Regions from separate parts of the Homo sapiens genome. Here all the other regions are linked to region 2. Evidence: fine-mapped expression QTL. A gene starts in region 2. Each other region holds a variant in brackets. All regions are shown on one strand. Distances are between the middles of the regions. Region 1 overlaps ARHGEF6 (Rac/Cdc42 guanine nucleotide exchange factor 6). Region 2 holds the start of ARHGEF6 (Rac/Cdc42 guanine nucleotide exchange factor 6). Region 3 overlaps ARHGEF6 (Rac/Cdc42 guanine nucleotide exchange factor 6).

The links. PIP is the estimated chance that this variant, and not a neighbour inherited with it, causes the effect.
Region 1: its variant is fine-mapped to the expression of ARHGEF6 in nasal epithelium (TOPMed, PIP 0.91).
Region 3: its variant is fine-mapped to the expression of ARHGEF6 in monocytes after interferon gamma (Fairfax 2014, PIP 0.95).

What each region holds. Positions count from the first base shown.
Region 1 is chrX:136,739,023-136,747,209 of GRCh38, reverse strand. It overlaps ARHGEF6 (Rac/Cdc42 guanine nucleotide exchange factor 6), which reads left to right. Exons shown (of 22, transcript NM_004840.3): 4 at 1,863-1,987; 5 at 3,424-3,625. Among named protein-coding and RNA genes, the nearest start is that of ARHGEF6, 38 kb to the left of the region's middle. The variant TCTC/C (reference allele first, on the strand shown) is at 3,937.
Region 2 is chrX:136,776,987-136,785,173 of GRCh38, reverse strand. It overlaps ARHGEF6 (Rac/Cdc42 guanine nucleotide exchange factor 6), which reads left to right and starts at 4,242. Exons shown (of 22, transcript NM_004840.3): 1 at 4,242-4,456; 2 at 5,677-5,760. The coding sequence starts at 4,292. RefSeq lists an enhancer at 5,587-5,806.
Region 3 is chrX:136,660,997-136,669,183 of GRCh38, reverse strand. ARHGEF6 (Rac/Cdc42 guanine nucleotide exchange factor 6) reads left to right here. Exons shown (of 22, transcript NM_004840.3): 22 at 1,015-3,634. The coding sequence ends at 1,155. Among named protein-coding and RNA genes, the nearest start is that of CD40LG, 17 kb to the right of the region's middle. RefSeq lists an enhancer at 2,810-2,899. The variant C/T (reference allele first, on the strand shown) is at 3,501.

The DNA of each region.
Region 1 (8,187 bases), 38 kb after region 2:
AGACCAGTTCCCTTTTTCATAGAGTTTACAAAATACAGCCGTCACTTCCCTTTCCCCACTAGAGACATATTTTTCTCATTGTTTTATGTATGCCTTTGTCCATGTAAAGGAACCCCTCAGTAGCCTTGCACCAAAAATGAAATCTTGGGGTCATAGGGAGTGAAAATAATATCTTTTATTTAAATGTTTAACACCTACCACACTAGAGGTATTAAATATAAATGCTAGTAAATGTGAAGAAAATGATGATACACTTAGAATGTAGCTTCACTCCTTCCCTGGTATATTTTACCAACAGCTGAATAGTAATAATCATACTTAAAATGCTTTGAGCTCTTGCCCTGGATCTAGGCTGTCATAAGAGCCACAGGTGATCTCATCCAATCCTTGAAACAACACTGGGGGTAGGTATTATTATTATTAGGTCCATATTACAGATAAGGAAAGTCAGGCCAACAGTTGCCCAACTAGAAAGTTAGTCGCTGAGTTGGGATTCAGACCCACATCTGAATGACTACAGAGCCCTTATGCCCAAGCACGAGGCTTGCTGCTCAAACTGTTGTAGAGTCAAGAGGCTGTGTGCCCAGCATCGCCAGGTGCTACAAAAAATGTCAAAGCTATGGTCCCTGCCTTTGAGAAAATTACTGTCTATTTAAGGAGACTCAACTTACCCACGTGAAACAATTAGAGGACAAGAGCAGACAATATAATCAAGTGCCAAATAGGTTAGAGCATCTAGGAAGCTATCGAGTAATTATAGTTTTTGTCAAAAGAGCTGTATATAATAGCAATACAAGTAAAAATACTTCTCCAAAGTTGTTCTTTTGCTATTTGGAAAAAAAAATGCTTTTGAGCTATTGCAAGGCGTATAGCTGAAAGTACAGCTAATTCAAGTAACTATATTTAACACACATGACAACTATCCAGTTCTAGTCAGGGAGGATCGTGTAATTCTAACATTATGCCACACAAATTATACGTTCCTTTGCCAAACTCTCCTAGCAAGTTTTACAGTCTCTTCCCTTGCCACAGATATTTATAAAATACAAGGAGGTGAAAGTTAAAACCCACAGCATCAAGGAAATTACTTGGATACTGAGCTTGTCGCCTAGGGAATGTTTGGGCTTTAGACTTTTGCAGTTTATATCTTTTAAAAATAAATGGAGAGGAAAAGAACCCTTATTGAAATTTGTCAAGAAGCCAGCTCCTCTCTTTTGTATACTCTCAACAAACTGAAAACATCCAGCTCAGCTCTGGCCTGGTCGAATTTCACAAGGTTTCAAGGAAGAGAAGACTCTTGAATCTGATTGTTAAAAAAATTATTCTAGTATCAAGATTACATCTTTCCCAAACACATCTTCTCTTTCACTCTCATTCTCCACCCTGCCCCACACACATCAGGGAGATTTTACATCATATATGCCACACATATTGTTACGTGTGAGTAAGAAATGAGCCACTGAGTTATGGGCCAAAAAACAAAGAGAGAAATTTGAAATATTTCAAAGTAATAAGAGCCACAAACAGCTGTTTGGTACCCAATATAGTTCTGCCTTGGATAACAGGGCATACTGTTGCAACTGGTTCAGGAGGGAAGAGTTGTAGGGAAATGGTTAAGAGAAAATGTGGTTCTGTCGCTGTTTTTCATTCTACTGGAGCACGATGGCCAGTAAGGTTAAGAACAGGAAGTTGGCCACCAAAAAGGGAAGGGGGATTGAAATACACTTGGCATGTTCATAATGATAACAGTTAGAATTACAGCCAGGATGCCTCTGATAGTATCCTGAGAAAGATAATGTTATGCGGTAGATGTTTTTCTGATCTGAGTGGTTCCTTTAACATGCCTTTTCCTCTTTTCACAGATCAGCTATCAGAAAGACCATGTGGACGTTCCTCTTCTCTTAGTGCTGCTAATACTTCTCAGACAAACCCACAGGGAGCAGTTTCTAGCACAGTTTCAGGGCTGCAAAGGCAGTCAAAGACAGTGGTAAGTATAGTCCCCAATTCTCCGTCTGTTTTAAAATCCATAAAATTAGATTGATATCCTAGTTGCATCTCCATATGTGGTGAGACAGCCATCCGGGTTGTTTTGGGCATCACTGAGAAAACTAATTATAAACCGAGCACCAATTCAGGCTGGCCCGAAGGAGCAAATCAAAGGCATGTGGTGGGGCAAAAATCCGGATTGAAGCTCCAGCTCTGTCCCTTACGAGAATTAGGCAAGTCACTTAACTGAGAATGCTATGCAAATGGAAGTCATTATGGCTACTTTCTGATGGCAGTTTGCTGTTAATTTCCCTATCCCTTGTTTTATTAGAACTAAATAGTGCCTGACACATAGTAGGCAATCAATAAATATTGATTAGTATCCTCATTATTATTGCCATTTTTATTTTTCTCTTTCCATTCCTAATGAGGAAGGCTTGATTTTAAATTTCAGTCTATGATGAGCTTCTATATTAGGATCTCCCAGTTGCCTTTTCACTTGCTCTTATTGGGAGCTTTTATTTGGGAGGAAATGCCTCATCTTCTGCTCTTTGGGTGAAACCTTTATTTCCTGTCAAAAGCCACCCACTTGCAGTAAGACATTATGACCTATTACTTCCAAAGCACTTGAGCATGTGGTTCTTAACTTTTTTGGATCACAGATCCCTTTGAAAGGCTGATGAACACTATGTCTCTACACCCCTGGTACCCTCTCAAATTGTATACAAAAGCCCATGTGTATGAACTTATTTAGACAAAAATATGTTGTGCTCATCAGATTCTCTAAAGGGTCTGTGACCCTCAAAAAGGAAGTCCAGTTTATACATGACAGATTAAGAATTCCTGACTTAATATATCCATGTAATAAAACTGCAGTTGTACCCCCTAAATCTATAAAAATAAAAAAATGGAAAAAAGAATTCCTGACTTAGGCAACTATGGGTTATTTGATCTTTGCATATAAATAAGTCTTAGCCAAATTAAGATATCCTTAGTAATTAGGAGATGGGAGGCAGATTTTATGGAGGGTAGGTTAGTACATCTTGGTTATATAATTATGTGGACTGTTTGTGTGTTGAGTAGAGGCAGGGTGGAATAGCTTATCCAGGGTGGAATAGCTTATCACTCTACTTTGTTATCTGGCTTAGTTAAATAGATAATCTTTAGATAATGGGGAGGGGTGTGGAGAGAAAAATGAAAGCTATGACCCACTTCAAAATACAGATTCTCACAAATGCCAAAGTTTACATACTGTTTTGAGGGATTTATTAATCCCTCTGAGACCCATTCATGGATTCCTAAGTTAAAAACTCAGGACTGAGATGGATCTGGGGTTTTGTCTTTGCTTCCTCCACTTTATTTGCCTATATCCATATCATTTCTACCCCTGCCTTATTTAGATGAGTGCTTAATCTGGTGTGGCTTTTGTTTCTCTAGGAGATGACGGAAAATGGAAGTCATCAGTTGATAGTAAAAGCAAGATTCAACTTTAAGCAGACTAATGAGGATGAACTGTCAGTTTGTAAGGGGGACATCATTTACGTCACACGAGTTGAAGAAGGAGGCTGGTGGGAAGGCACATTAAATGGGAGAACAGGCTGGTTCCCCAGTAATTATGTCCGTGAAATTAAATCCAGTGGTAAGTGAAGTTTTTAAAAGGCTTTTTGATTGTGACTCTTGTACTTTCTTGGTATTCTTACTGAAAATTGTGTAGTTTTAATTGGTTAACAGAAGCTGTTTATACTTGTATGTGTATGCCAAAAATAAGAGTAGAACAGAACTGGGAAAAATCTGTGATTAGATATTTTGAAACAAATTGTATTTAGATTACATTAAGGCAGCAGAAAAATAAAAAAAGCAAAGGAATTCAAAGCTCAGACAACTGGTCCACCCTAACTGTATCCCTTTATGTCTACTAATTCTAGCCCATGTAATATAGTACATAGTCCT[TCTC/C]ACCACTCTAAAACTTACCATGGCAGAATCCAATAATAAGAGAGGCCATGTGCTAACTTCCTTTTTTTAGCCTTAAGCCCTGTAAGCAGACCTGAGACTAAATGCCTCAGACATGAGAGATAATAATGATAGGGCTGCAGGAAGCTGTCTGGCCGCTTTGATGCTGAACAAGATTGCCCTTAACTCACTGAATACTGCTAGCTGTTTACCTTTTTTTTGTAACAATAGCCAGAGAATGAAATCGAATTGCTCTTCAGTAGTCTTTTCTTCTCTCTCTCTCTTTTTTTAATTATTATTTTTAGACAGGGTCTCACTCTGTTGCCCAGGCAGAGTGCAGTGGCTATCACAACTCACTGCAGCCTGGACCTCCCGGGCTCAAGTGATCTTCTTGCCTCAGCCTCCCAAGTATTTGGGACTACAGGTGCACGCCTTCCACACCCAGCTAATGTTTAAACTTTTTGTAGAGACGGATCTGCCTGTGTTGCCCAGGCTGGTCTTGAACTCCTGGGCTCAAGTGATCTTCCTGTGTCGGCCTCCCACGGTGCTGGGATTACAGGCATAAGCCACTGTGCCTGGCCACTCTTCAGTAGTTTTCCTTAGAGTTTTTTTGATAATTCACTTGCCCTTTATTGTTTAAGAAGGTAGGCTCTTCTGATATTGCAAAAAACCCAGCAAACCCTTATACATAAGAATATGTCCCTCACAATACACATAAAACAGCATTTAGTTATTCACATTATTACATCTCTTTACTTTTCAAAAATATTTACACAAGGGCTCTTTTGAGTGGTTAGCTCAGCGCATTATTTCTTTTGTAAATATCTTATTGCTTTTTCAATGCCTCAAAATTGATACTATTAATTAATTAATAAAATTTTAGGCTCACTGTAAGTAAAATGAAACATTCTGGAAATATACGGTTGACTCTATTTTTTTTTGTTGTTGTTGTTTTGAGACGGAGTCTTGCTCTGTCACCCAGGCTGGAGTGCAGTGGCGCAATCTCGGCTTGCTGCACACTCCGCCTCCCGGGTTCACGCCATTCTCCTGCCTCAGCCTCCCCAGCAGCTGGGACTACAGGCGCCTGCCACCACGCCTGGCTAAATTTTGTATTTTTAGTAGAGATGGGGTTTCACCGTGTTAGCCAGGATGGTCTTGATCTCCTGACCTTGTGATCCGCCCGCCTCAGCCTCCCAAAGTGCTGGGATTACAGGCGTGAGCCACTGCGCCTGGCTACAGTTGACTCTTGAACAACATGGGGATTAAGGGCACCGAGCCCCCATGCAGTTGAAAATCCGTATATAACTCTGAGCTCTTGAGAGCTGAAAATTTCTGATTCATTTTGATATTCTTGAAGGCTGGCACCTGAGTGGCATCTCATTAAGGGCTCAATTCATTCAATATGGAGCAGGTACTGGATGAGACACTAAGAATATCAAGAAGCATTCCATCAATTTCATCAAGAGGGAAATATGTGAATATTTGGAGGCAGCTGTCTTTCTCCAGAGTAACTTGGTAGGATTTCCCACACTTTCCTTGCCTTCTCTAGAATGATTTCAATACATAAATTTCCTTCTTCAAACATGTGGAACTTGAAGACCCTTAAAGGCAGTAGGATCATTAGGGCTTATTAGTTACTTCTAGATTCTAGTGTTCAGAGCATTGCTTTATTTTCATCACTGCCCTAAAGTTACGACTTTAAGACTGAGAATAAATAAAACACACACACACACACAAAAAAAAAAAAAGAAAAGAAAATCCATGTATAACTTTTGACTCCTCCAAAACTTAACTTCTAATAGCCTACTGTTGGTTGGAAGCCTTACTGATTGTATGTTATATGTATTGTATACTGTGTTCTTATAATAAAGTAAGCTAGGGAAAAGAAAATGTTATTAAGAAAATCATAAAGAAGAGAAAATACATTTACTCTTAGTTAAGTGGAAGTAGATCATCATAAAGGTCTTCATTTTCATTGTCTTCACGTATAAATGGGATGGGCCTGCAAAGTTCAAACCCATGTTGTTCAAGGGTCAGCTGTATAATGTAGATAATGAAAGTTCCTCTTCTCTTTGCACTCTCCCCCCGACAACCAGAGTTAGGAGCTTTTTCCTAAAGTGTTTAAGATAAAATTAATTTTCACACTTTTCTGTGTTCTATGTTGTGTTAAAAGGGGTATCCCCTTTAATGGAATATGTTTACTAACAGATTTATAATTATATACGTATATGGAGACTTCTTAGCATTTTTAATTACTGGGAATCAAGAAGGTTCTATTGAGCCCTGGAGTATTTCCACAGGCTTTGCCTGGAATTTCCTTGGTTTTGATGATATTCACAGACGATTTTTACCTCTCACTACATCTTTCAATCGATATAATTTTGTTGATATAATTTAGGAAAATCCCTAAAAGATTTTCCAGGTTCACTCTAACATTGTTCCCTGATACAGTGTCTTTATCTGCAAAACTAAAAGGAGCAGTAATTTTGTCCAGGAATCCCAAGCACTGCGAGGGGACCTGGGAAGTGAACAGCACACCCTCACTTTGACGACTCTCCTTATAATGTCCCTCACTGTGACTCCTTGTAGCAGTCTGGCCACTCCCTTATAGACTGCCCCAGGTTATTTGTTCTGGTCTTAGGGGCCTTCATTTTAAAATTTCTCCTATATTCTCTCTGGTTTAGGACTCAGCTTAGGATTCATGTGGCAAGCTCCGACTCTGACTTGAGCACTTAGGTAACCCTTAGAAGCATCTAACCCAACTGTCAAGGACAGGTCTGAGTTGCTTGGGTCAGGAAATGAGTGCTAGTCAGGGAAGGCCTGGAACTAGCAGTGTATGGAACAACCTCTCTCATTTAGCTTATGGCAGCAGCTTCCTAATTGGCATCTCTGCCCCTGTTTTTGTCACTCCTATAATCCAGTCTAAACTCAGTACCCAGAGTGATTCTTTCAAAATGTAACTTGGGGCCGGGCACGGTGGCTCATGTCTGTAATCCCAACACTTTGGGAGGCTGAGGCGGGCGGATCACTTGAGGTTAGGAATTCGCGATCAGCCTGGGCAACATGGAGAAACACCATCTCTACTAAAAATACAAAAATTAGCTGGGCATGGTGGCGCATGCCTATAGTCCTAGCTACTTGGGAGGCTAAGGCAGGAGAATAGTTTGAATCGAGGAGGCGGAGGTTGCAGTGAGCTGAGATCGTGCCACTGCACTCCAGCCTGGGTGACAGAGTGAGACTCTGTCTAAAAATAATAATAATAATAATAATGTAACTTGGGTCATGGCTCCCCATCTCAATAAAAGAAAAGGCCAAGGCCATCACAATAGCCTCCAAGGTCCTCCAGGATCTGGCCTTCCGTTGCCCTTTTGGCTTCCTCTCTGATCTCTCTTCCCCTCACTCATTCCACTTTAGCCACACTGGTCTCTTGGCTGCCTGTGCCAGACAGGCTCCTGCCTCACTTGCTGTCCCCCTGTCTGGAACATTCTCCAGCTATCAGCACAGCTGGCTCCCTCATCTCCTTCAGGTCCACTCACTTGCCTACTTCACAGGAGGGCCTTTCCTGGTCACCCAGGAGAAAATTTAACCCTATCCCCACTCCCTCTATCCCTCTTCCCTGCTTAAATTTTTTGCTTATTATTTTTCCCCGTCTAACATAATACACGTTTACTTATTTATTTCATTTACTGTTTACATTTTACCATTAGAATTGTAAATACCACAAGGGCAGAGACTTCATTCGTTTTGTTTATGCTCAGTAAATATTTGTAAAATGAATGAATATTACAGCGTAGGTAATTCAATTCTGTTCAGCTTGTTCACTGAGTACCTCCTAGGCGCAATCTATACCTCATAGACCCCGTCCCCTAGCACCTTTACAGTCTAGTAATCAACACAGGTCTGTGCAGAACTAACTGTTACAGGCCAGGACACAGTAAGTAGCACAGACAAAGGACTGAGTAAGATGCTGTAGGAACAGTGAAGAAACAATTTGATTAACAATAACATAAGGAGTGGGGAAGCACTTGAATTGGGTCTTGAAGGATAGAAGAAGCTTCTGACTGGGAGAAGAAGATCAGAGGGAACTTTTAAGTTCAAGCATGGAAGTAAGAGTGGATGGTGGGGTGATTTGGGTTGAGAATCAGATGCATGATGATAAGGAATGGGACCTTGAGCTGGAGCTACATTAAGAGGCGGTGTCAATGTCAAGTTTTAAGCAAGGGATAACATGGTCTAGGAAGATCTTTCTGG
Region 2 (8,187 bases):
TCCCAGGTTCAAGCGATTCTCCTGCCTCAGCCTCCAGAGTAGCTGGGATTACAGATGCCCGCCACCATGCCTGGCTAATTTTTGTATTTTTATTAGAGACTGGGTTTCACCATGTTGGCCAGACTGGTCTCAAACTCCTGACCTCAGGTGATTTGCCCACCTTGGCCTCCCAAAGTACTGGGATTACAGGTGTGAACCACCGTGCCCAGCCTACTACATAGTAATTTTAACAAGAAGAGTTTAACATAAAGAATTAACAATAACAGGGGATTGGAGTGTTGAAGAATTGGTTAGTAATAAATAAAGGAAACTCTAAAAAGTATGGGATAGCAGATATAAATAGCAGACAATATAAAAATAATATGTAATGGCCGATACCTCTAGAGCTGTGATAACCCTCCTCTCCACCCACGGTCGAGATCCAGGCCTTATTGGAGAAGTTGCTCTGGTGCTGAGTTGGTGGAACTTGTTGGATGTACATTCTCTGGAACTTGCTGAAATATACCCCTCTACGGTGCTGGTTCACATGGAAGGTGTCTGTCTCATCAGAGATTCTTTGCTGCCTAAACACTCAAGGGTAGTGCCTGGGGAGGTTGCTACCTACTGTTTGTTGGGAAAACCAGTGCTGCAGAAGGTGGGCAATAGGAAAGCTGGGAGCTCAGCAGGAGCTTGTGGAGTGAGCGCACAGAAAACAGGAAGTAAAACCCCTTCTTCCTGCAATGTCTCTCCACCACTGCCTACTGATAAAACTTTGTATCATGCCAGCTGGCAAAGTCAGAAATATTTCAAGGTCCCAGGTCCATTTCACAGAATAGGCATAAAGGGGAAATGAGAGGTAATAAATTGATTACAGGTTGAGAAGTTCAAGGAACTGAGAGGTCTTGATGTTGGATTGTTGTTCTTGTGGATATTGAAATGACCCAAGTGTTGGCAGAAATTAGAGTGGTGTAGAAGGTTAGAGACCAATAAACTCATTTCTCTAAGTGTGACCTTGGTCTATCTGCATCAGAATCAAGTGGGATACTTTGATAACACAAATTCCTTTTTCCCACTGCAGATCTTCTGAACTGGAGTATCTGGGAAGAGAGCTCCCAAATATTCTTTTTTAGTAAGTGCCTTAGTAGATTTGAAATGAAAGAGAATCGGTTAGTAACATTTTAAACACACAAAACTAAATAGTAAAACAGGTACCAGTGTACCCAGCATTCAGTCTTAACAAATGTTCACATTTGCCTTATTTCCTGAAGATCTTTTGATTTTTCATGAAATGTTACCTATTTTAGCTTAAGTTCCACTCTCACCTTCCTTTCTCCTTTATGCCTCACAGGAGATGATCATATGAACATTGTTTTTTGTCAATTCCTGCTTTAGGCAATAGAGAGCCTTTGAGGGTTTTTGAACAGGGGTATTAACACTAGAGGTGTTTTTGGAAAATCAACCCAAATGTGCCCTGTTAGAGAGTTCATTAGGATGAGAGGATGGAGGTGGAAAGCCCTTGAAGAGGCAGGTTCAGTGGCCCAGAGGGTGTGGTACTGAGGATCTGAGGTAGGGTGAGAGATCTTTGCTTTTTTTTCTCATGCTCTTGTGTGAAGCCTGCTCTTTGTGTTGCTGTGACCCCCAGTCTTTGAATTCCCCCTCTTCCCCTATTCCCTCAGTTCATCAGCTCCTTTCTAGCTTCATTTGAGTCCCTAACCAGCCTGGGTTTCATGGGTACCCATTTCACCTATATGCTTGCCACTGCCCTGGAATTCCTTGCTTTGTTGACATTTTACCACACCAACTGTAACTTCCAATCTTTATACAAATAGAACTGGTTCTTTTGCCTTGAGGCAGTGGCCTTGCCATTCTGATATACTTTATTACTCATAGTAATATTTGCTATAGTGAGTGTCCAAAATGAGGCAGAGTTTTATCCAGATGACCTTGGTGAACTCAAGACTGTTTTGGAGGAGGCTGGGTTCACAAAACTTACTCAGGCTTTGTTCTTCATCAGAAGATGTAAGTGATACCTCAATAATACTGCCAGATTTTGTTTGTCTGTAGAGTAAAATTTTGATGAGCAGTTGTGAAAACTGTTCAGATGACATATAAAAATGTGTTTAAGTTCGTCAGATTTGGGAATTTTATTTATCAACAAATGTATTCTGTTTTTATTTCCATTACATAGATTTGGCCATGGGTCAACGTCAATGAAAACTTTTGATTGATTATACTTATTTTGCTTAAGTCACAAGTACATCAAGCAAACCTTGTTATAGAACTATGGACAGACACAATAACATGAATGAGTATGAAAATGATGATGTTGAGTTAAGAAGCCAGAAAAAAGATAGTACCATACTGTGTACTTCCATTTATATAAGATTCTTGAAAATGCAAACTAATCTATAGACACTGAAAATAGATTGGTGGTTGCCTGGCATTTGGAGGCAAAGAGGAAAGAAAGAATTGAAAGGGCACGAGGACAATTTTGGGGGTGATGGAAAGGCTTATCTGGATTGCATTTGTGTGATTGTATCAAAGATGTATGTATATGTCAAAATTCATTAAATCATATATATGCAGTTCCTTATGTGTCAATTACAGCTTAATAAAATGGTAAAAATCATTAACAAGAAAAAATGTTTGTTTTAAGCCATTTAAACCAACCAACAAACAAAAAATCCTTGCTATAATCAGTTACTGTCTATATCAGGGACACCATCTGAATACATTCATTTATTCATTCAGCATTTTTTAACATCTACTGTGTATACCTGGCAGTCTGCTGGTAACACAGTGTTAAATAAAAAAAAACAAGACCCCGAGTTTAGGAAGTTTACATTCTTGTGGAGGAGTCAGATCATCAGATCAACAAGTGATAATAGTAAAGTGTGACAAGTGTCCTGACAGAGCAAGAAAGGGCAGCTTTGAAAATGTTTAGTAGGGTTATCTAAGCTGATTCTTTGGTAGTAGATGCCTGAAGCTGTGTTGAAAAGAATTCTGAGGCTTAGTAGGAAAGAGCTATACATGATCTGATGTCTCCCATGCACGAGGAGAGGTAATCATGGTAAGTGCCACACATTTGCCAACATAGGGTTATACTATTAAAGTTGGCCTTATCATAAATTTCCCAATAGTATGCCTATTTCAAGTGGTTCTGAAAATGTTTGAGAATGATGAAGATCTCTTGTTATAGACAGTTTTTTTTTCAGAGCAGTATTTTAAGTGCAAAGTGTTTTTTTGTTGTTGTTGTTGTTGGGAAAATAAGAATCTTCCATATTGTAGTGTAGACAGAGGACAAGTGCTCTTTTGTTCTCAAACATTCTATTTTTTCAAGTGTATTTTACCCACTTATGTGACTGAGTCTGAGCCTTTGCTAAGGGTACTGCAGCTGGATTATGTAGTGGAACCAGGTCCAGAAAAAGAATTGCTAAAGAATGCAAGTAAACAGGATGTCAGATGTTATCCTTAGCCTATTTCCCTAAACATAGCTTTTTGGCTGCAAAGTAAAATGCCATTCTTCTAGCTTCTGCTTATACACAGTGATGGCTGACAGCAGGCATAATCTTCGTTTGCTTGGCACGTTGTCACCATGCAACTCAACGTGTTTTGCAAGGAATGATCGTGACACACCATCTCTGGGAGATACTATGAGGACATCCGGCTATTTCTTGGAAGAATTTTCTGTCTACCTTCTTTGAGCCCTGTTGTGCCAGCACATCTCCCCATGAGGCTCAGATCTGTCTGACCTAAGAGCCAGTTGGCATCGTCCTCCTAACAGAAGCCAGATTTTCACTGGGGCTAGACTATTTATTGACAGTGTTTTCCCAGACTGGCCCATGAGTGTCTCATTTCCAAGGTCCCCTGAAGTGCTGGCTCACCTCTGTTTCCCAAAGCACTTGCTTGCTTGTCTCTCCTCCCTCCCCAGCATCCTTTTCACTTTCTTCCCTTATAACTTCTTGCACTCTGTGTGCGTGTGTGTGTATGCGTGTGTGCATGTGCGTTTCTTCTTTTTTTTTATCCTAACGAATTTGTTTTGCAGGTTTTGAAAAGGAAAAACCAGCGTTATCCAGGATTGTTAAATTAATTCTTATCTGTTTCCACATCTTGGACCGTGATCTCTGTGGTTTTAAAATCCCATATTTTGAGTGGGTTCCGCTGTTGTTTAAGAAAAGTTGCTTTAAACCTTTGCTCTGCAAGCACCCGAAGAGAACTCATAAAAAGGAAGACAACAGCAGATGCAATCGCGGATGTGGCTTAGTCCTTGCAGCTGCCCCAGAGTGCTGTTTGGAGTGTACCGTCCTCAGTAATGAATCCAGAAGAACAAATCGTGACATGGCTTATATCTTTGGGAGTTTTAGAGTCCCCTAAAAAGACCATCTGTGATCCGGAGGAGTTTTTAAAGTCCTCGCTGAAAAATGGGGTAGTTCTGTGCAAACTGATCAACAGACTCATGCCTGGCTCTGTGGAAAAGGTAAGGGAAATTTGCAGTCTCTTTGGGATTGCTTATCACCAGAGAGCAGCAATCATGTAACTCTTGAGATTTTTCTATTTCCCAGGCCATGGGAATCTCCTACTTTAATATTTTTCTAAGAGTTAGACATTCTTTCTTACTGTTTTTGTAGTTTGAAAATGTAAGAAAATGAAACGTTATTCTTTAGTAATTGGCCCCCAAATTGTAGTATAGGGAAAACCTGTGACACCACTGGCAACAAGGGACAAGGAGAACACTCATATCACAAGCTTGCTCTATCATGGAGATGCATGTTACATCTCCTTGTGTACCGAGGACATGTTTTGAACTTGGGGTACTTATGAGTCTGTGGAAAAATAGAATGATTTATAACAGATCTTGGTGGTGTTTATTGGCAGTTTGATTAAAATCAGTGTAGATTTCCTTTTAGAAAAATCCATTGAAGGAGAGACTATATAGCAACTAGGAAAAAAATAATTCAAAATGTCACATAAAGTTTGTAAAAGCAATAGAAACCAGATATATGTTTCGAATGCAATGTGCGTTCAAAGTGAAACTAACTTTACTCTCTTTAAAACAATTCAAGATTTTTAATAGCTGGAAATCCACGATCACGAGAATAGATAATTTCTAAAGTAGGCACTTTAAGTAAGCTTAAAGGTACAATTTTACATTTACTTTCTTAAGGTCATCATGGACTGTGAGCATAGCACTTTTGCCTTCATGAGCCAGTTTGTATTTTTATTGAGCAAATAAATTTACTTATAATTTCTTAAACTTGAGAAAGAGTGATTAAATAGTGATAAAATGTAAAGAAGTGTGGTCAAATGTAGAGGGGAAATAGAATTTTATTAAATTATCAGGGGGAAGGAGGAGAGAGAGGTACCAGGGATTGCTTCCTTTCTTGAAAGCAAGAACTAAGCTCAAAAAACTGTCTTGGTCTCCCTAATTTGCCATCAGCACACTGGAACAGAAGGCATGAGAGAAAGCTTGTAAGTAGACATGGCTTGCCACTAAAGGTTTGGTGACATTTGAAACAAAGATCGACCGTTTAGATTTTTGCATCACTTCCTTCAGTGGTTATTTCTCTTCCTGGATTGACAGCAGTGTTGCCCCACACCTTAAGAGGCCTGCTTTCTCTAGTTATCAGCAAATGATGAGTATACTTTGCTTGGCATGGGATGACAATCTCCAAGTGACATTTCACTGTGTTCCTCTAGTTTTGTCTGGATCCCCAAACTGAAGCTGACTGCATCAACAACATCAATGACTTCCTGAAAGGATGTGCAACCCTCCAAGTGGAAGTAAGCCTACCCCGGGTGCCTTCCCTGTTGTCATCGTTTTTTTGCTCTGCTAATCAAGATTGGTAGTAAGAGTACTTGTTTATTTTCACTGTCATTGGCCACTGAGTTAAACAGAGGTAGCAGACTGGTGGTCCCCAGTAATGGATTGCTAGTCTGTCTTTTCCAGAAACCAGTTCCAAGCAAAACAAAACAAAATAAAAACTCACACAATAATGCCTTTTATATACAGCATCCAAGCCCTGTAAACAGGCTTCCAGTGACAGAGCTTGTGTGGGTGTGTTCTCCTACTAAGGGGAACCAAAAGTGGGCCACTGACTGTTGGAGAGGGTCACTGTAATCCTCCCAAGTTGAGAAAAGAGGAAAGGCCATTGTTACTCCTTCCCATTAACACTTTAGAACAGAGGCCTTGAAAAGCTGAGAGAACTTGGCTTTGAGGTAGAAATTGTATAGTAAATTTTGTGGCATTATTTTATATTATATGGATCCCTACAGTGTGTATAGGAAGTGTTACTGAAAGGGAGGTGATACTTCCACACGAGCATCAAGTTGCTTAACTTCTCTGTGCTTCAGTATTTTTATCTGTAAAACGGACATGCTAATAGCCAACTCATGGGATTGCTTTAAGAATCAAATAAGGCCGGGCATGATGGCTCATGCCTTTAATCCTAGGCCAAGGCAGAAGGATTGCTATAGCCCAGGAGTTCGAGACCAGCCTGGACAGTATGGTGAAATGGTGACTCTACAAAAAATACAAAAATTAGGCAGGCGTGGTGGCTTGTGCCTGTAGTCCCAGCTACTCGGGAGGCTGAGGTGGGAGGATCGCTTGAACCCAAGAGGTGGTGGAGGTTGCAGTGAGCTGTGATTGCACCACTGCACTCCAGCCTGAATGACAGAAAGAGACCTTGTCTCGAAAAAAAAAAAAAGAATCAAATAAGATACTGCATAATAATTTAGGGCCAAGAGCTCCAACCTTGTAAGATCTATGAGATAATTTATGTAGAGTCCTTAGCATAGGGCCTGGGACAGAAGAAGTACTCTATATTAATAGACTAGTATTAGTCATATTATCCGTGGACAAATAGTTGTGGTTTAAGCATGGACTGTGGTGCTAAACTTTTTGGGTTCAAATCTCAGTTCTCTCTTACTAGCAGCTTTGTGACCTTGGGCATGTTACTTAACTATGACTCTAGGCCTCAGTCTTCCTACCTACAAAATGGGAATAATAGTGGCACCGAATTCATAGGACTCGTGTGACCTTTTTAAAAAATATTATTTCAATAGTTTGGGAGGAACAGGTAGGTGGTGTTTGGTTACATGGATAAGTTATTCAGTGGTGATTTCTGAGATTTTGGTGCATCCATCACTTGAGCAGTGTACACTGTACCCAATGTAGAGTCTTTTATCCCTCACCCTACTCCCACCCTTCCCCCTGAGTCCCCAGAGCCCATTACATCATTCCTATGCCTTTGCATCCTCATAGCTTAGCTCCCCCTTATAAGTGAGAACATATGATGTTTGGTTTTCCATTCCTGAGTTACTTCCCTTAGAATAATGGTCTCCACCTCCACCCAGGTTGTCGTGAATGCCATTATTTTGTTCCTTCTTATGGCTGAGTAGTATTCCATGGTGTGTGTGTGTGTGTGTGTGTGTGTATGTATACATATTATATATATGTATATTACATTTTCTTTATCCACTCTTTGGCTGATGGGCATTTAGGCTGGGTCCATAACTTTGCAATTGCAAATTGTGCTACTATAAATATGTGTGTGCAAGTGTCCTTTTCATATAGTGACTTCTTTTCCTCTGGGTAGATACTCAGTAGTAGGATTACTGGATCAAATGGTAGTTCTACTTTTACTTCTTTAAGGAATCTCCATACTTAAGGTTTTCCATAGTGGTTGTACTAGTTTACATTCCCACCAGCAGTGTAGAAGTGTTTCCTTTTCACCACATTCATGCCAACATCTAATATTTTTTGTTTTTTTTTTAATTGTGGCCATTTCTGCAGGAGTGAGGTGATATCTCATTGTGGTTTGATTTGCATTTCCAGTGCTTAGTGATGTTGAGCATTTTTTCATATGTTTCTTGGCCATTTGTATATGTTCTTTGAGAATTGTCTATTCATGTCCTTAGCCCACTTTTTGATGGGATTATTTGTTTTTTGTTTTTGTTTTGTTTTGTTTTTTGAGACTGAGTCTCACTCTGTTGCCCAAGCTGGAATGCAGTGGTGTGATCTTGGCTCACTGCAACCTCTACCTCCCTGGTTCCAGCGATTCTCCTGCCTCAGCCTCCTGAGTAGCTGGGAATACAGGCGCCCGCCACCATGCCTGGCTAATTTTTGTGTTGTTAGTAGAGACAGGGTTTCACTATGTTGGCCAGGCTGGTCTCAAACTCCTGACCTCAGGTGATCCGCCCGCCTGGGTC
Region 3 (8,187 bases), 120 kb after region 2:
TGTAAGTGTAAAGAGAACCATTCATCATGGTTTGTGGGCTTTTCTGCCGATGTGGCCTAGTGCTCCGTGATGCACACTGTGCCTTGTGTGTGAGGACTGACTGTATCTGGTGACAGAGTGAAGGATGGATGCGAGGGGAGAGAGACCAGGGACTAGAAGACCACTTAGGAGGTTCTTACAAAACTCAGGGTGAAACCTGTCAGAGTCCTGAACTGAGGCAGGGTAATGAGGCTGGGGAGGAGGAAACGAATGTAAAGGATGGCATACTGCAGAGTTTGAACCTATGGACGAGGATAATATGATTTTGAGATTAAGAAAGAGCCAGGGATTAAAGATGAAGCTTCTTCCCAGGGTGTCTGGTTGCATATGGTGGTGCCCCTTCATGGAGATCAGTAATCACAGGAGGAGGAGAAGTTTGGGGTGTTGAGAGAGATACTGAGTTCACTTTAGGACCTGATGAGTTTAAGGTGCTTGTGACATATCTAGGTGGAAATACCAAGCTGCTGCCAGGTAATCTCAGGTAAGTGAGAGGATCACTTAAGCCCGGGAGTTTGAGGCTGCAGTGAGCCATGATTACACTGCACTCCAGCCTGGCAATAGAGTGAGACCCCATCTCTTAAATAAAATAATAATAATAATAATAATAATAAGAAGAAGAAGAAGAAGAAGAAATACCAGGCTGACAGTTGAGATTGTGGACCCGATTCTCAGGAGACAAGGTCAGTACCAGAGATATTTGGGAGTCCCCTTAATAGACACTTGGGTTGAAACAGAAGTGACACTAAGTGAAAAGCAAGTTAAATTAGAAGAGGATCAGGGCAGGGAAGAAGAATCCAAAAGGTTTCCCAGAGACAGGCAGGAGAATCGACAGGCTGCTTTGTCATAGATGCTGAGGGAGGGAAGGTCGAGGAAAGAAAGAGAGTCAGTGATGAAAGCTGCCCCGAGGATGAGCAGGAGGAGCCCTTGGAAGGGCCCCCCTCTGTTTGATAATCAACAAATCTTTCCCCATCATAGGAAAATAAAAGAATGAAGCAATGCCTGGAAGAAGAACTGAAATCAAGAAGGGACCTAGAAAAGCTGGTGCGGAGGCTTTTGAAGCAAACAGATGAGTGTATTCGAGGCGAGTCCAGTAGCAAGACCTCAATTCTTCCATAACCATCACTGTGCCACTGGGTGGAGTGTGCCTTCAGGGCATCTTGAAATGTCCCGCTGAATGATTTGACTCAGTTTGCTCACTTCTTTGGCTTTTGTTTTGTGTTTGAGTCTCTCTCTCTCTCTCCCTCTCTCTTCTCTTTCTCTCCCCGCTGTGTGCATATGTGTGTGCGTGCACGTGCGCGCTTGGGCATTTGCTGTTGTTTGGTTATTGGTTGGTTGTTCATTTTTTTTTTCAACAGGTGAAAAAGCAGGAAGTGGTGGTAGAGATGGCCTCAGAGTCTTTTCCATTCAGTAAGAAAGAGAAAGGGAATGCAGGCCAGTTACTTAAAAGGTCTTCAGATTGCCTTCAGTTCACAGTGCCTCTGCAACAGCCATTGCCCTCAGGTCACATTCTTTGGGCTGGCTGCCCTTGCAAAGCAGCTGGCCAAGGCTTATTAAATGTGAACCCAACTTTTCCCCAGGGCTTTCCTGTACCTGCAAGCCTCTTAGTACTTAATTTACCGAAGGCAAATCTTCCAGACTATGGCTTGAGTAGGATGAAAGACAAACACATCTGCCCAATGATCCAGCTGCCCTTCCTTAGACCATCACATGCCTCCCCTCAATCACAGGTTTTAAAATTACTGCCCTATGTTGTCTATAAGACCAAGAAAACTGTAGTACCCTTATTCCTTTTGTGTCATGTAAATTGTAACTCAGGGGGGCAGAAGCTCTGGTCACCCACACCAACACCAAATCCATCAGCAAATTCTACTGGACAATCCTCCCTTTTAGTAGCAGAGTTGACCGCCTTTTCCCATTGCATGATAGGTTTCTTTCCCTCATTCTGCCTAGTGTGTAAGTTTTCTATTTCCCCAGTACTTTTAGCCAACCTTACCAAGTGGTGTGTAAACTAGTATGTATGTGCTTTGCTTACTTTTTAAAAAAATGTAGTTAGACTGTGAGGAGTTACTTTATGTACGTTGCATATTCAAACTGTGATGTTTTATCCTTCAAAACAATCTGCATTAAGAAGATATTGTGCCCTACTAGACAGCTTTCATTCACTTTATTACTCTCTCATATATGCTGTGAGAAGTTGTAATATTAATTGGCCTCTTTGGGTGGGACTCTAAGCAGTATTTGCAGAAATATGCTTCTGGTCCAACTTGTACATCCAGAACAAAAGGGCCCCTCTAGTAGCTGTGTGCTGGATTATTCAGGACTGATTAACTCAAGTTGCTCATTGAATCACATCATCCACTTTATCCCAGAAACTAGAACTGTGAGAAACCAGGTTTAGAAGACAGTCACAGAACAGCACACATCCAAATTCAGCGCCATTGAAAGTTGGCCTAAGGCTCAGTGCCACTCACCCCTCCCTCCCCAAAAGACAAGAGAAATTTGGCCAGATGGGGAAGGTCACTGGAAATTGAGGCCAAAGGGCTGATCAGAATTGCCTTTATAATATATTTGATGGATGCCTATAAATGTGGGTTTTGCAAATATTGTTTAAAAACCAAACTTGAAGCCAGGCATGGTGGCCCACACCTGTGGTCCCAGCTACTCAGGAGGCTGAGGTGGGAGGATCATTTGAGCCCAGGAGGTCAAGGCTGCAGTGAGCTGTGATGACACCACTGCACTCCAACCTAGGTAACAGAGAGACACCTCTGTCTCTGAAAAAACAAAACTTGAAGTTTGAAACCCCCAGCTTGCTGAGGAGCCCTTTTTATTTTTGGTACTGAGAGTCTCAAGGTCCCATAGCTACATGGTACAGGGCTGTTGTCTGCTTGCTGCACAGCAGAAATTACACCATCCACAGGAAATGGACTATTTTTGCAGTCCAACATCAGCCAACCACACACAGCCGTGTTTGGAAGCTGAAGAGTAAAGAAATTTCTAGGAATGGCTGTTGTTCTGTTTTTTAGCACAGCCATTTAGATATAACATCCTTCACTTAAAAATTAAAAACATCAGTACTACCACCACCACCAACAACATCAACACAGATCTTCACATCTGCCCATTCTGTGGTTAGTCAATGGCTTGCAATAAATGTGCAAACTGCATCTATAGGAAACATTTTTGTGATTACGGAATACTTTAGTTGATTGCTGAAAATATTGAAAGGTCTTCATTTTACAGTGATGAGTACATATGCATGTTTCGGGGACTTGGCCCTTCTGATGAGGGGCCCTCGGTACTCTGGATAACGAAGCTTGTGCAGAGTGGTAACCATGCTTACACACTAAACTATAATATAAAGGAAATGAAGCCATGTTAATCTGAGAGCAGTGTCGCCATAGTTGTGTTGTTTACAATACTCTATAAATGGGTTCCTGTTGCCCTGTAATTAAACTGCTGCC[C/T]GTAGAGGCCTTTCAGTTCCTTTTCTGTCCTTCCCCTTCTTAACACAAGCTCAAATTTTCTAACTTGTTTTTATTTTGAAGACTTTTAAAATGGACATTTTCAATACATAAAAATAAACAGTGCTTTATAAAAATAAGTCTTTTGCTTCTTTTTTTGCTAGCCGGTGTGCAGAAAGATTTCTTGTGCTGTGTCAGCTTCCTCTCCCATTTCCCTCATTAGCTAGTCTGCTCTCACCAAGCCCTCTAGCCAGTCTCAACCTTTTTCACTCAGGGCAGATGACATTTGCTCCCAACTTTACAGAGATAATACATGCCCTGAGACAGAACCTTCCTTAACTTCTCTACCTCTCTTCTTCTGGCCCAAACCTATAAATTATATCCCTGCTCACCATCTGCTTTTTGATATTAGAGAAAAATGTATTTTCCTGCTCAAGCTTATCCCTTGATATTTATTCCTGTCCTGATTCCTCTTTGAATTTGGCAGGATTTTGTCAATCAGTGATAATCCTATATTTTGACCACAGTTGGAATGCTGGTGTCAGCACTCAGGATGGAAATATTCGTTCCACTTAAAGATTGATGAGGTGGAAATTATCTGCTGCTCCACATGCATTCCTACCCCTTTTCTGTTTCTTTCCAAAAACATAAAGGCTGAAAAATCAATTTCCCAGACTCCCTTGCAGCTAGGGTTCTGGATAAAATGTGGGTTCAGATACATGTTCACTTCTGCCAACAAAATTTGGAAGGCTTAAGTTGGGCAGAGGCTATCTTCTTGGGGTTTGGTGGCCAGCAGGTGATTCCAAAGATGTGTTTGTGGCTTCTGTACTCCACATTCCAGTGTGTCTATTCACAGCTTTGTGAGTGAGAGACTGTAGTGGTGGCAGCAGCCTCCTAACATGTGGATCACAACTGCAATGATATGACCTTGAAGCCATTAGTCCAGTGGCAGCCTCCTGACTTCCCCTGACTTCCACTTATGTAGCCCAATGGTTTTGTAGACAACTGATTATCTTTCTGCCTGAGATACCTTCAGTGGTTTATGATTCCTGCTCTGAGCCAATAGATAGAACATGGCATCTCATGTGTGCTAGGCACTGTACTAAGTGGTTTACACGATTAAGCTCATGTAAGCCTCACAACAACCTTATTAAGTATTTACTATTGTTATCTCCACTTACAAATGAACAGAGGCACAGAGATGTTGAGTAACTTGCTAGTACATGGTGGAGCTGGAATTTGAAACCTTAGTCTGTCTGACTCTTGGACCCATGCTCTCTCTATCACGTATCCTCCTGCACACTTGGTACATGCTAAGGTTCCTACCTTAGCCATCCACCTTTGTGAAGTCACTATTAAGCTTATAATTGACAAATCCATTGGCTTTTCGATCCTCACCTTGACGTCTCTGCAGTATTTGACCCTTGCCTTCTTGATGAATCTCTCCTTCCTTGGTTTTCATGAGCCCACACTTTCTTGGCATTCATTCAGTCACCCCTCAGTCTCCTTTGCTGGACCTGCCTCCTTAGGCTGTCCCCTGAACATTGCTGATCCTCTTTTCCTCGTCTCTTCCAATCTATAGCCTATTCCTAGACAACCTTGACTACCCCCATAACTTCATTTATCAAAATGCAGATGACTCCCATGTCCACAGTTTTCCATTCTGACTTTTCTCCTGATCTCCAGACCCATGGATGCAGCTACCTTATAGATAACTCAGTGGAACTGCAGGAGTGGGGCAGTTTCCTGAAAGTTACTGAATTGCTTGAAGAATGACTCAGAGGAGTGTGAAAGTGTGGTATGGAAGGGGGAGGTTTGTGTGCTGATGCCCCTTAGACTGGGAATCAATGGTCATCGTCTTTTAAAGAAACATTCCTAAATATAGAACTTCGGCTGGGCTCGGTGGCTCATGCCTGTAATCCCAGCACTTTGGGAGGCTGAGGCGGGCGGATTACAAGGTCAGGAGATCGAGGCCATTCTGGCCAACATGGTGAAACCCCATCTCTCCTAAAATACAAAAAAAAAAAAAAATTAACTGGGCGTGGTGGCATGCACCTGCAGCCCCAGCTACTCGGGAGGCTGAGGCAGGGGAATCGCTTGAACCTGGGAGGCAGAGGTTGCAGTGAGCCGAGATCATGCCATTGCACTCCAGTCCAGCCTGGCAACAGAGTAAGACTCCATCTAAATATATATATATATATATATAACATATATAATATATATATATAATATATAATATATATAATATATATATATAATATATATAATATATATATAATATATATAATATATATATATAATATATATATATGTAATCTTCTCAAACCTACTGAAAAATTTGGCAACTCCAAGCCCCCAGCGCTTAGCAGTTTTTGACAATAAAACTATACCATAAAAAAAGGGTCTTTGCTATCCACAGGTCTACTGTAATGTTTGCTTTTTCTTTCTTTCTTTTTTTTGGTTTCACTTTGCTTCACATTGGGTGTGGTCTTTGGTCTAGTACATGAGCATAGGCTCTCATGTGTACCTGGGTTGCCAGGCATTCTCCTTGGTCTCAGAAGTTTCAACCATTTAAGATGGCACCCTGTCCACTTGCACCACTGAATGCAGACAGGTGTGCTGGGGACCATGTAGAGACCCACCTTAGTGCTTCTTACATGATGATCTTCTCCAGAGAGCAGATTCTGCTGGGGACTTTCTGTGGACAATCTCACTGAATCTTTATAAACTTTTTTTTTTTTTTTTTGAGATGCAGTCTTGCTTCTGTCGCCCAGGCTGGAGTGCACAGGCACCATCTTGGCTTACTGCAACCTCCCCCTCCTGGGTACAAGTGATTCTGCTGCCTTAGCCTCCCACGTAGCTGAGATTACAGGCACACACCACCATGCTGGGCTAATTTTTGTGTTTTTAGTAGAGACAGCGTTTTGCTGTGTTGGCCAGGCTAGTCTCGAACTCCTGACCTCAAGTGATCCACCTGCCTCAGCCTCCCAAACTGCTGGGATTACAGGCGTGAGCCACCATGCCTGGCCCAGCATGTCTTCTTTTTATTCCCACTTTACAGATGAAGACACAGAGGACTAGAGGAGGTGAAATGACTTGCCTGTACTTATAAAGCTGGTTAATAGTGGAGCCTAGATTAAGACTGTATCTGTCTGACTCGAGATTTAACTACTACACTACAATGAGCATTTCTGGTTTTGTTTTGTTTTAGTGGGGATGTGATTCACAGAGAAAAATAACATAAAAATCATACTTAGTTCCATGTTTCTGTGTCTCAAAGTACTTCAGACTACTTTAAAAGTCTAAAGCAGTGCAGTTCCCAACACAGTGGCATTGGGCCCTGTGAAAATAGTTGAATGTAGCACAGAATGTATTCTCTCCTGAAGCCCAAAAGTTTACATGTCATTTCCGTTTAAGTGGGGGCACCCCTGTTCTGACAGCTTGCTAGAGCACACTGTTTGCGTTTTGTGGTCATTTGCTAACCATCAAATAACAGAGGCAGTAATATTTTATCCTTGTTTATTTTCTCTTTATCTAGAAATAATTATTTGGTATTTCAAACATTCCCACCCTCCCCCTTAGATAGAAGGCAGAAGTGACATGATTATAAAAATGGAACTAAGTTAGATAATTTATGATCAGACTATTACAGGTACATCAGAAATGTACTCGAGTCTTTTTCATTTATAGGAAAATGCTGAAAATGTTCAATTGAAGTTTGGAACAAACATATATTATTTTGCAAATTATCATGAAATGTATAATAAAAACATATTATCTGTTTTTAGCTACAGCATAATTCTCAGTCATTTTTTACTCCATGAGTGCATTTTTATCATCCAGATATTTTTGACCTAATGAGGATCCTTTCAGTGTAGCAAATTTTTGCCTCAGCCAACACACAGAATTATTTTCTGGGCTATTGAGTTATAAGCAGCTGTATTTATTCATTCATTTATTCCTTCATGCACCAAATAAAGGGCCAATTCAATGCTAGGTCCTGTGGTAGACGCTGAAGTTATCATGGTGAATGGGACAAGGTCTTGGTCCTCAAGAAGCTCACAGCATAGTAGGGAAAACTTCAACCATGATAAGTGCTGTGAAGCACTTGCTAAGTGCAGGGTGCAGTGAGGGAGAGAAATGGGTCTTGCAAGAAGAGAAAACAGCATTCCAGGGCCCTAAGGTAGGAAAGCATTTGTAACCTTGCTTAGAGGAACTGAGGGCTAGAACTTAAGAGACCGAGAGAGGTGGCAGCAGGAGATGAAATTGATTATTTTGGTCTTTATTCCAAGGTTCATAAGAAGCAGGGGACTGGCTGTGCATGGAGAATTGATGGAAGGGAGCAAGAGTGGAGGCAGGGAATCTAGGAGGCTGTTGTACTATTCCAGAAGAGAGATGGTGACAGTTGGGACTAGGATAGAAATAGTAGAGATAGAAAGAAGTAGATTAAGGACTACTTAAGAGATAGGGTTGATGAGCATAGGCTGGAGGGATTGAACATGGGGGTGATGAGAGTGAAGTCAAGCCAGGTTTCTGACTTGAAAAACTGGGTAGATAAAGACACCATTCATTGGACTGGGAAACATTGAACACAGATCCCATTGTGTGGGGGGAAAAGTTAAGAGTTCGGTTGGAATGTACTGGGTTTGAGGAACTAGGCCCACCCTTTGGAGATGCAGGCAAATTCTAG